Linked DNA regions of Homo sapiens: region 2 is linked to region 1. The links come from fine-mapping of genetic effects on gene expression. A gene starts in region 1. The other region holds a variant in brackets. All regions are shown on one strand. Distances are between the middles of the regions.

The links. PIP is the estimated chance that this variant, and not a neighbour inherited with it, causes the effect.
Region 2: its variant is the best candidate, but not a certain one, in a credible set for the expression of FIGNL2-DT in whole blood (INTERVAL, PIP 0.55).

Annotation. Positions count from the first base shown.
Region 1 is chr12:51,845,541-51,850,906 of GRCh38, reverse strand. FIGNL2-DT (FIGNL2 divergent transcript) reads right to left here and starts at 2,684. Exons shown (of 3, transcript NR_135803.1): 1 at 2,344-2,684; 2 at 597-646. FIGNL2 (fidgetin like 2) reads left to right here and starts at 2,189. Exons shown (of 2, transcript NM_001384995.1): 1 at 2,189-2,367. RefSeq lists enhancers at 1,965-2,956, 3,155-3,863, 4,574-5,282, 5,283-5,366.
Region 2 is chr12:51,739,174-51,744,539 of GRCh38, reverse strand. All of the region lies in intron 12 of SCN8A (sodium voltage-gated channel alpha subunit 8), which reads right to left. Among named protein-coding and RNA genes, the nearest start is that of TMDD1, 73 kb to the left of the region's middle. The variant G/A (reference allele first, on the strand shown) is at 2,761.

The DNA of each region.
Region 1 (5,366 bases):
TTTACTCCCGGACTCCTAGAGGATGAAGGAGAACCGGATCCCCGCTCCAGGGGAGCGCATGATCAATTCCTTCCTTCACACTGAGCGCCTCAGTCCAACCCCACTCCTGTCATCCCCCCTTCCCTGGAGCATGGTGGAGCAGGATCCCCATTGGCAATGCCAGACTTGGCTTCCTGGCACTAATCCTGCTGGCTGAGGCACCCAGCTCATAAGGATATTAGTCTTTCCCTTAGTTCCTGTCTCTGGCTGTCAGGGAACCTGACAGGTAGGGGTGGAAAAAGTGCAGTGGATTCTAGATCCAGCTTTGCTGTGTGACCCCAAGTGTGTCACTTCTCCTCTCTGGGCCTCCAGTGCTCCAACAATAAGGAAATAGCCAAGGAGTTCCTTCCAGCTGGTATCCTGGGATTGTTCCTCCAGCAAGGGTTCCAGTCTCCTAGCATGGTGGTTGTGGCTCCCTTCATCCTGCCTGATTCTGAAGCCAGGGGCTACTCTAGCACTCTGAGCCTTGACACGTCCCTCCTCCTGTGCCAGGGCAGAGCCCTGGGGGTGGGGAGTGGCAAGGAAGAGATAATTCTGGAGGTGGAAAAGACACTGACCTTGGCAAGTTCCAGAACCTGCGTGGGTGCCGGTTGCTTCCAAATGTGGGCTGGAAAAGAAGTGGGAGCTACTGAGGCCCTCCCCTTCTGTTTCCCTGAGTGGCACCTAAAGGAGTGCCCCAGACCTGTCAGACCCCAGAGCCTGCAGGGGAATCTGCATTAGAAGAAGGGAGGGGGTAGTGTTTGGAGTTCTACAGGCTAGTGGGTGAGGGCCAATCTTGCCCTACTGACACTCAGGCTAGGCAGCCACTCAAAAGGGAAACAAGCTCTCAGGAGAGAGGACCCTTAAGCACTGCCCTTGGGTGGAAACAGGATTGCCTTGGGACATCTGGAGGCTCAACAGCAGGAAGGTTCTCTGGACCCTCCATCATCAGCACAGCCCTCCTCCTACCTTCTCCTGGGGCAAAGCCGGTTCCTGGCCTTTATCCCTGATGAAGCCTTGAGTGTGTGTGTGTCGGGCAGAATTCTGTCTACCCTTCGACTGGGAGCTCCAGGAAGACAGGGCTGTGCCTCTTGGACTCTCTTGGGTATCCCTGGTGCACAGTCCAATGTTTGGCACAAAGTTAACACTCAGTATGTATCTATTGAACGGATGTCTTTGGACACTCTCAGTGGACTAGAGGTCTGGGATTCATCCCTCATCTTTTCTTCCTGCCAGTCATCCTGCTTGGCCCAGTGTGACTGCCGCCTTCTGGGCAAGCCCTCCAGTGGAGCCCTCTGTTTAGATCTCACACCCTACACTCCGCTGCCCCCGTCCAGTGCTCGCCCTCCTCCCCCGCAGCCACCCGCTCCCGGAGTGGCATCAGCGCAGAGCCGCGGCCTTGCCTGGCGGTGCGTCCTGCCCTCTGCAGCCCGGGAGGGCAGGCGCAGCAGAGTCCCGCGCGCAGTGGGTTCTCAGCTCACCTGGGGGCGGAGGAAGTGAGCAAGAGTCCTCCAGACTGGGGCCAGGGGGCCAAGGCAGTCCTGGGAAAGGGGGTCTGGGGCGGCCCGCGGACGGGGCGGGCCCAGGCCGGCTGCCTTCCCCTTTGCCCTTCGACCCAGGAAGCCGCCCACATCCAGCGGACACGCTCGACGGGCTGGGCTGCTCAGTCCCGGCCTCGGCCCCGTCCCCATGCCGTCCCCCACCCCTACCCGCCGGCCCGACCCCCACCCCAACCCCAGCTTCCCGCTCCGACGGCCGGGAGAGGCGGGGCGGACGGGTCTGAGAGTGGCGAAGGACACTCTCCACACCGAGGGTCACTTGCTCTTTTTTCCCCTCTGTGGCTAATTTATTTTAGAGCCAGGGGCGGGAGGGGGCGGGGCCAGCCGGGAGGGTGGCAAGGAGGGGCTGGGCGAGCCCAGGGGAGGTGGGGGCGGGGCGGGGGCGAGGTGGGGGAGGGCGGGGAAGAAGCCGGGGGTGGAGGGGCCAGAGAAGGGGCGGGAGCTGGGGGAAGAGAGGGGCACTAGGAGAGGGAGGAGCAGGGAAAGGGGAGGGGAGGGAGGGCCTGCGAGGGAGGGCCCTGGGGGCGGGCGAGGGGAGGCGGGGGTGGGGGTGGGGGTCTTTCCTGCGGGGGGAGCCGGGGCCGCCCCTTGTCCGGCCACCCCCACTGCCCAGTCCCGCTCCCGCCCGCGGCGGCCGCAGCAGCCGCAGCAGCAGCGGCTCCAGGATGGTGAGCGCCACTGCCCCCCAGCCCAGGCCTGTCGCCCCCGGCCCGCGCCGCCGCCCCGGTCCCCGGGCCGGACGCGCCCCCAGGCCGCGCACACTCACCTAGGACCCGGCCGTGATGCCGAGGTACGGGGCCGCGGGCGGGCCGGGATGGGGCGGGGGGAGGTGACCGTTCGGTCAGGGTGTCCGGAGCTTTGTCCGCCGGCCCGGGGCCGGAGAGGGCCGAGAGGGCGGGGGCTGCTAGTCGCGGGGTTCAGCTCGGCGGGGGTCGGAGGGCAGGGCCGGCGAGAGACCCTAGCGGGTACGTGGGAGCCGAGGGTCACTTCTCGGGGGGAGGGGGCGGGCAGAGCAGGGGATAGCCGCCCGGCCGCCGACGGGCACCCGTCTCGCAGCCCCCTCTGGTGCGGGGGCTGCAGCGAAAGCGAGCAGCCGGCTCGGGGGCGTCTGCTGGCCTGGGGGTGGGGAGCCAAGGTTTGCGGGTTCGGGTCCCAGAAGGATCCAGCGTCCGGAGCCCGAGGGCCGGCCCGCAGGCCCCTCCCACTCCGTCAGGTCTTTGTCCAGCGGCCCCTGTGTGTGTGTGTGGGAGGGGTGGGGGCTGGGTTACTGGCCCGGAGATTCCCCAGCATGGTGACGGGGCAGTGACAGGAGGCCGAGGCTACTTAGGGTCCCCGCGCCCCTAACACCCACCCTCTTCATGTCTTCTCCTCTGGCCCGGGAGAACAGAGCCCGCGTCTCAGAGTCAGGGGGTTGTAGGAGGCTGTACTCACCTTCACCCTGGGGCTACAGGCAACAAGGGGGACCCCCGGAGCGCCCAGCTCTCCAGAGAGGGCCCCTCAAACTTCCCCACCGCAAGAGCCCTCTCCTGTTCTACACAGAGATTCGCATGCTAGCAACCCCCCCGCCGCTGCAGAGGGTCCTTCGCAGATTGCTGAGCACCCTGTAGGTGATCAGCAAATGCTGGTGCCCTTCCCCAGCCCCGCTGGTCCCCCTGCCCCCGCCAGAGGAGGAGGCCTGGGAAGGGGTCTGCGCGGGGCAGAGAGCGCGCGGCCTGGACCCTGCGCCCAGCGGCGGCCCGGAGCGCAGGGGTGGGTGGACGGGTGGGTGGGCTGTTAAAGGGACGGTCACTAAATCAGGATTAGGCCGTAGGGCTGTCAGGCTGCCGGCCCTGTCTCCATGGATACCTAATTTGGAGGAGAATAGAGGACTGAAGAATGTTTGTGTTGTCCGCACGGGCTGTGGCGGCGGAGCGGTCTCCTGCTTTCCGCCCGGCAGCGAGGAGTGGGGACCCGGTTCCAGCCCAACTCTGGGCTTACGGCGCAGGTGGGCTTCCCGGTTCCTGGGCCGTGGGGCCTCCCCTGTGGAGCCGCCCAGTCTCTGGAGTGGGCTGGGCCCGCAGATGCCACGGTGCGAAACCCTCTGACCCTGCAGAGGGAGTCCCAGACCCTCCCGGAGCCTACCCCGAAATCCCATAGCATCCTCCTAAAGCCTCCCCGAGCCTCTCAGTCCGGAACCGACGCCATTCCCCGCTGTGCCTGAGCCCCCAAGGACGGGCGCGCCGGGCTGCCCGGTGCTGTGGTGCCGCCGCCACCCAGCTGTGGGACGCGGGTACCGGGCGGCCGCGCGAGCTGCGGGCAGGGGGCGGGGCGGGACTTCCTGGGGTGGGCGAGGAAAGGGGCGGGGCTTGCTGGGGTGGCTGGGCTGGACGGGTGACAGGCCTCGTAAATCCCCTTTCCCATGTTTAACACCATTTCATTTCTTTCCACTTGATTCCATTGGCATCCAAGGCAGACGGGAGCGACCCTCGTGTCCTCGCTGTAATATCTTCTGGGCGAAGCCCTTTTGGGCCAAAGGGAATTAGGCTGTGTGGGGCAGAGGAGTTGCTCCTGGGGAGGCCTAGAGGACCCGCATTCCTCGGGGGGATTCCTGTTGCCCCCACCCCCGCCCCAGAAGAAGAAACAGAAGGGGCTGAGAGACACAGAAATGAGTTTGGCTTCGGAGGCCCTGCCCGATTCTCTGGCCGTGGTATGGCTGAGGGCTGGGCTGAGGATCCCGTAACTGTCAATTCCAGTACCAGCCTGGGCGAAGGCTGGGGAGAGCCACCCAGACTGAGTGTGGCGTCGCAGAGCCCTTTCCTGCCTTTCTTCTGCTCACCCATGGCCACAGCTTTTTATGGATCAGGACTCCCCTCCCTGCCCTGCCTGGGCCGCAGCTTTATTGCTGAGATCTAGGGCTCTCTCCACGCAATTTCACGCCTCTCTGCCTTTGCTCCCGCTGTTCCTCCAGCCAAATGCCTTCCTCATTGTCCCTGTCTTTCCACAACCTCCTTATTCTTCAGGGCCCAACTCGGATGCGCACCTCCTCCGCATCACCTCCCCAGCCCCGAGCTTCTGTCACTTGCTCCTCCCTCCGTGGCCTGCACCTGTGCTCCCTTCCGCCTTTGTGGCGGGGTCCACTCAGGGCTTTGACTGAAATGGAGCATGTACTCCCTGGCCCTGCCCCCAGTGGGCTTGCCACAGGGCTTGACACCTTGTGGGTGCTCCATAAATATTGGTTGGCTGAATAAAAGGGGTTTTGTAAGGGCCTTTAGCCAGGCAGTCTGCATAGCATGGAATCTGGCCACCTTCAGGTAAACAGCTCTGTGCTCTTGGGTGGTGGAGACCCCTGGGTGGGGCTCCTCCTCTCCCTTTCCCTTATTTGCCTCCTTCTCCTCCCCATGACCCTACCCCACCCCCCCAAGTCCGGGGAGGACTTTGCCCCTTCCCTTCCCCACAGACCAGCATTCTTTCCCTGCCATTATCATTCTGTTAAACAGAGAGGCCAGTCAGGATCCATATGGATCACATTAACAATTGCTTATTATCTGGGCCAGGACTCCCCCGACTCTCCCCCCAAGCTCCGACTGCTGCCATTGCTGGACCCTTAGGAGCCCTGCCTTCCCCTCCCCCTGCCGTCGGTCAGCCAGGGAGGGCAAGAGACAGGCTGGTCTCCCTCACCTTCCCTGTGCCTTCTAGCAGAACTTTGCCTCTCCTGGACTTGGCGGTTATCGACTCCTTTACCCGATTTAATGAAAACCAGGTTCCTGGAAGGAGCATGGCTCTGCAAAGCTCCAGGGCTGCAGCAGGGAG
Region 2 (5,366 bases), 110 kb after region 1:
GCAAAGCTACAGAAGAAATACAGGAAAAAAAAAACCGATTTCCCTGGGAATTCCTTGCTGCATTACTACACTAACATCTGTGTATGTAAGAATGACTTGTGGTGGTGGCCACAGGAAGAGGCTTCCTGCCTGTGGAAAAAGGAGAGAAGAGCAGGAAGGACTTTGTATTGTGGTTTGAGTGCCAGCATAGCTGCAGAATAGAACATCAGGCAAATCTCTAAGGTTTTTTGTTTTTGCTTTTTGAGAGTCTGCTCTGTCGCTCGGGCTGGAATGCAGTGGCATGATCTCGGCTTACCGCAACCTCTGCCTCTGAGGTTCAAGCAATTTTCCCACCTCAGCCTCCTGAATAGCTGGGATTACAGGCATACACAAGCACACCCGGCTAATTTTTGTATTTTTTAGTAAAGACAAGGTTTCGCCATGTTATCCAGGCTGGTCTGGAACTCCTGGCCTCAAGTGATCCTCCCACCTCAGCCTTCCAAAACGCTGGGATTACAGATGTGAGCCACCATGCCCAGCTAAAATTTAATTTTATTTAAACAAATACTTATTGTTTGCTAAGTGGTGTGGATACAGTGGCGAACAACACATACAACATGGTCCCTGTCCTCTTGATGGGTTTCACCATGTTGGCCAGGCTGGTATCAAACTCCTGGCCTCAGGTGATCCACCCACCTTGGACTCCCAAAGTGCTAAGAAATCTCTAAGGCTTTTTGCTCCAATCCCTGGCTTCCGGACAACATGTCTGTACCCACCTGGGACCTGGGGGAACTTGCTGCCCTGAAGGGGAGGATACAAACCTGGCTGGCTTCACCACCTGCTGACTATAGAGCCCTAGGGCCCTGAGTGAACACAGGTGGCAGCCATGTAGTGGTTACAGCGGGCCTTGGGCGAGACCCTGTGCTGTGCTGGCTTCAAGTCTGACCCAGCAGTCTCAGCAGTAATGGCCAGAGGGGTGCTTACATCAACACACTCCAGTTCAAGGTGGCTCAGCACAGAAAAAGAGACTCCATTTGTTTGGGAGAAAGTGAGGAAAAAGAACAAATCTTTGTCTCGTAATCCAGAGAATTCTTCCAGATCTTTATTATCCAAGACCACCAAGGTGGTATTTCTATGAATCTGCAAAAACCACAGCATTATTGGACTCGGGGCTCAAATTCCTTCGAATACCTAGAAAGCCTTCTGAAGAAGGACAGGCACAAACAAGCCCAGATTGCGAAGACTATAAAAAATACCTAGCTTGTCAATGCCCAAACACCAACAAACATCTACAAGCATCAAGATCATGCAGGAAAACATGGCCTCACCAAAAGAACTAAATAAGGTACCAGGGACCAATCCTGGAGAAACAGAGATATGTGACCTTTCAGACAGGGAATTCAAAAGAACTATATTGATGAAACTCAAGGAAATTCAAGATAACACAGAGAAGGAATTCAGCATTCTATCAGATAAATTTAACAAAGAGACTGAAATAATTATAAACAATCAAGCAGAAACTCTACAGTTGGAAAATGCAACTGAATACTAAACAATGCATTAGAGTCTCTTAATAAGAGAATTGATCAGACAGAAGAAAGAATTAATGAGCTTGAAGACAGGCTATTTGAAAATACTCAGAGGAGACAAAAGAAAAAAGAACAACAACAACAACAAAACGAAGCACACCTGCAAGATCTAGCAAATAGCCTCAAAAGGGAAAATCTTAGAGTTATTGGCCTTAAAAAGGACGTAGAGAAAGAGATACGGATAGAAAGTTTATTCAAAGGAATAATAACAGAAAACTTGCCAAACCTAGAGAAAGATATCAACATTCAAGTACAAGAAGATTATAGAACACCAAGCAGATTTAACCAAAAGAAGACTACCTCAAGGCATCTAATAACAAAACTCCCAAAGGTCAAGGATAAAGAAAGGATCCTAAAAGCAGCAAGAGAAAAGAAAAAAAAAAACATACAATGGAGCTCCAATAAATCTAGCAGCTGGCCTTTCAGTGAAAAACCTTACAGGCTAGGAGAAAGTGGTAATGATATATTTAAAGTGCTGAGGGAAAGAAACTTTTACCCTAGAACACTATATCCGGCAAAAATATCCTTCAAGCATGAAGGAGAAATAAAGACCTTCCCAGACAAGCAAAAGCTGAGAGATTTCATCAACACCAGACCTGTCCTACAGGAACTGCTAAAAGGAGTTCTTCCATCTGAAAGAAGAGAGGATGTTAACGGCAAGAAGAAATCATCTGAAGATACAAAACTCACTGGTAATAGTAGGCATACAGAAAAACACAGAATATTGTAACACTGTAATTGTGGCATGTAAACTCCCACATACCATAATTACAGTGTTATGATAAGCCAATATAAATAATAACTACAACAACTTTTCAAGACATAGTACAATAAGACATAAAGAGAAACAACAAAAAGTTAAAAAGCAGAGGGATGAAGTTAAAGTGTACAGTTTTTATTAGTTTTCTTTTTGCATGTTTGTTTATGCAATCAGTGTTAAGTTGTCATCAGTTTAAAATAATGGGTTATGCCAGGTGCAGTGGCTCACGCCTGTAATCCCAGCACTCTAGGAGGTCGAGGTGGGCGGATCACCTGAGGTCAGAAGTTTGAGACCAGTCTGACCAACATGGAGAAAGCCCGTCTCTACTAAAAATACAAAATTAGCCGGGCGTGGTGGCACATGCTTGTAATCCCAGCTACTTGGGGGGCTGAGGCTGGAGAATCACTTAGGAGGTGGAGGTTGCAGTGAGCC[G/A]AGATCACACCATTGTGTTCCAGCCTGGGCAACAAGAGTGAAACTCTGTCTCAAAAAATAAATAAATAAAAATAAAATAAAATAATGGATTATGAGACATTAATAATATTTGCAAGCCTCATGGTAGCCTCGAATTGAAAAACACACAACGGATACACAAAAAATAAAAAGCAAGAAATTAAGTCATACCACCAGAGAAAATAACCTTCACTAAGGGGAAGACAAGGAAGGAAGGGAAGAAGTAAAAGAAGACCGCAAAACAACCAGAAAACAAATGACAAAATGGCAGGAGTAAGTCCCAACTTATCAGTAATAACACTGAATGTAAATAAACTAAACTCTCCAATAAAAAGACATAGAGTGGCTAAATGCATGAAAAAATAAGACCCAATGATCTGCTGCCTACAAGAAACACACTTCACCTATAAAGATACACAGACTGAGAATAAATGGATGGAAAAAGATATTCCATGCCAATGGAAACCAAAAAAGAGCAGAAGTAGTAGCTATACTTACATTAGAAAAAATAGATTTTAAGACAAAAATTATAAGAAGAGACAGAGATCGCTAGTACATAATGATAAAGGGGTCAGTCTAGCAAAAGGATATAGCAATTATAAATATACATGTACCCAACACTGGAACACCCAAATATGTAAAGCAAATATTATTATAGCTAAAGAGATAGACCTCAGGCTAGGCACAATAGCTCATGCCCATAATCCCAGCACTTTGGGAGGTCCAGGTGGGTGGGTTTCTGGAGCCCAGGAGTTTGAGACCAGCCTGGGAAACATGGCAAAACTCTGTCTCTACAAAAAAATACAAAAATTAGCCAGGCATGGTGGTGCATGCCTGTAGTCCCAGCTAATCAGAGGGCTGAGGCAGGAGGATCACTTGAGCCTGTAAGGTTGAGGCTGCAGCGGGCTGAGATCGCACCACTCCACTCCAACCTGGATAACAGAGCAAGACCTTGTCTCAAAGAGAAAGAGACCTCAATACAATAACAGTTAGAGACTTCAACACCCCACTTTCAGCACTGGACAGATCTCCCAGACAGAAAATCAACAAAGAAACACTGGACTTAACCTACACTAAGGATGACCTAATAGAACAAATGGACCTAAGAGATATTTACAGAACATTTCATCCAAAGGCTACAGAATACACATTATTGCCCTTAGCACATGGATTATTCTCAAGGACAGACCATATGTTAGGTCACAAATAAGTCTTAAAATACTCAAAAAATTTGAAATATCCAGCATTTTTTACCACAATATCAAGCATCTTTGAATAAAACCAGAAATCAATAAGAGGAATTTTGGAAATGATACAAACACATGGAGATTAAATACGCTCCTGAATGACCAGTGGGTCAAAGTCAATGAAGAAATTAAGAAGGAAACTGAAAAGTTTCTTGAAACAAATAGCAGAAACACAACATAACAAAACCTATGGGATACAGTGCAAGCACTAGTAAGAGGGAAGTTTAAAGCTATCAGCACCTTGTTGGGAGCAAGCCCCCCAAAATCTGGCCATAAACTGGCCCCAAAACTGGCCATAAACAAAATCTCTGCAGCACTGTAACATGTTCATAATGGCCCTAACGCCCAAGCTGGAAGGTTGTGGGTTTACGGGAATGAGGGCAAGGAACACCTGGCCCGCCCAGGGTGGAAAACCACTTAAAGGCATTCTTAAGCCACAAACAATAGCATGAGCGATCTGTGCCTTAAGAACATGCTCCTGCTGCAGTTAACCAGCCCAACCTACTCCTTTAATTCGGCCCTTCCCTTAGTTTCCCAAAAGGGATACTTTTAGTTAATTTAATATCTATAGAAACAATGCTAATGACTGGTTTGCTGTTAATAAATACGCGGGTAAATCTCTGTTTGGGGCTCCCAGCTCCGAAGGCTGTGAGACCCCTGATTTCCCACTTCACACTTCTATATTTCTGTGTGTGTGTGTCTTTAATTCCTCTAGCGCCACTGGGTTAGGGTCTCCCTGACCGAGCTGGTCTCGCGCAAGTGGCGTCCATTCGTGGGGGCTCAAATCCAGGTCAAAGGGTTGCTGAAGCGATGCTTGGAACAGAAAACTAGCTGGAGGACACCCGAGTACTCTTAAAGCAGTCCCCATGGTGAGTAAGAAGGGGAGCTCGGATGCCTCAGGGTAACAATGGGACAGGGATGGGGTCTGGTTCGTTTCACCTTAGAACTTTTTCACACTGATAATGAGGAGGAACAAGAGAATAGTGAAGTAACAGAAGAGGTTACAGAGCAGGTTTATTTGCCAGCTAAAGCTAAAGTGGCAAAGGAAGGAGAGGTTCATCCCTACCCTTCTGCACCCCCTCCTTATTATTTTGAAGAAAATGACCCCCCGGATCTTTCTTTTCCGGAGGACATTGGGCAAAAAGTAGTTGCCCCAGTGACTCTTCGAGCGGCACCTCGAGTGACGGCTCTTAGTTCTATTCAGGCAGGAATTCAGCAAGCTATACGAGAGGGTGATTTAGAGGTTTGGCGGTTCCCTGTTAGAACAAACCCCCCAGATCAACAGGGAAATATTACAGCTACATTTGAGCCTTTTCCTTTTAAATTACTCAAAGAATTTAA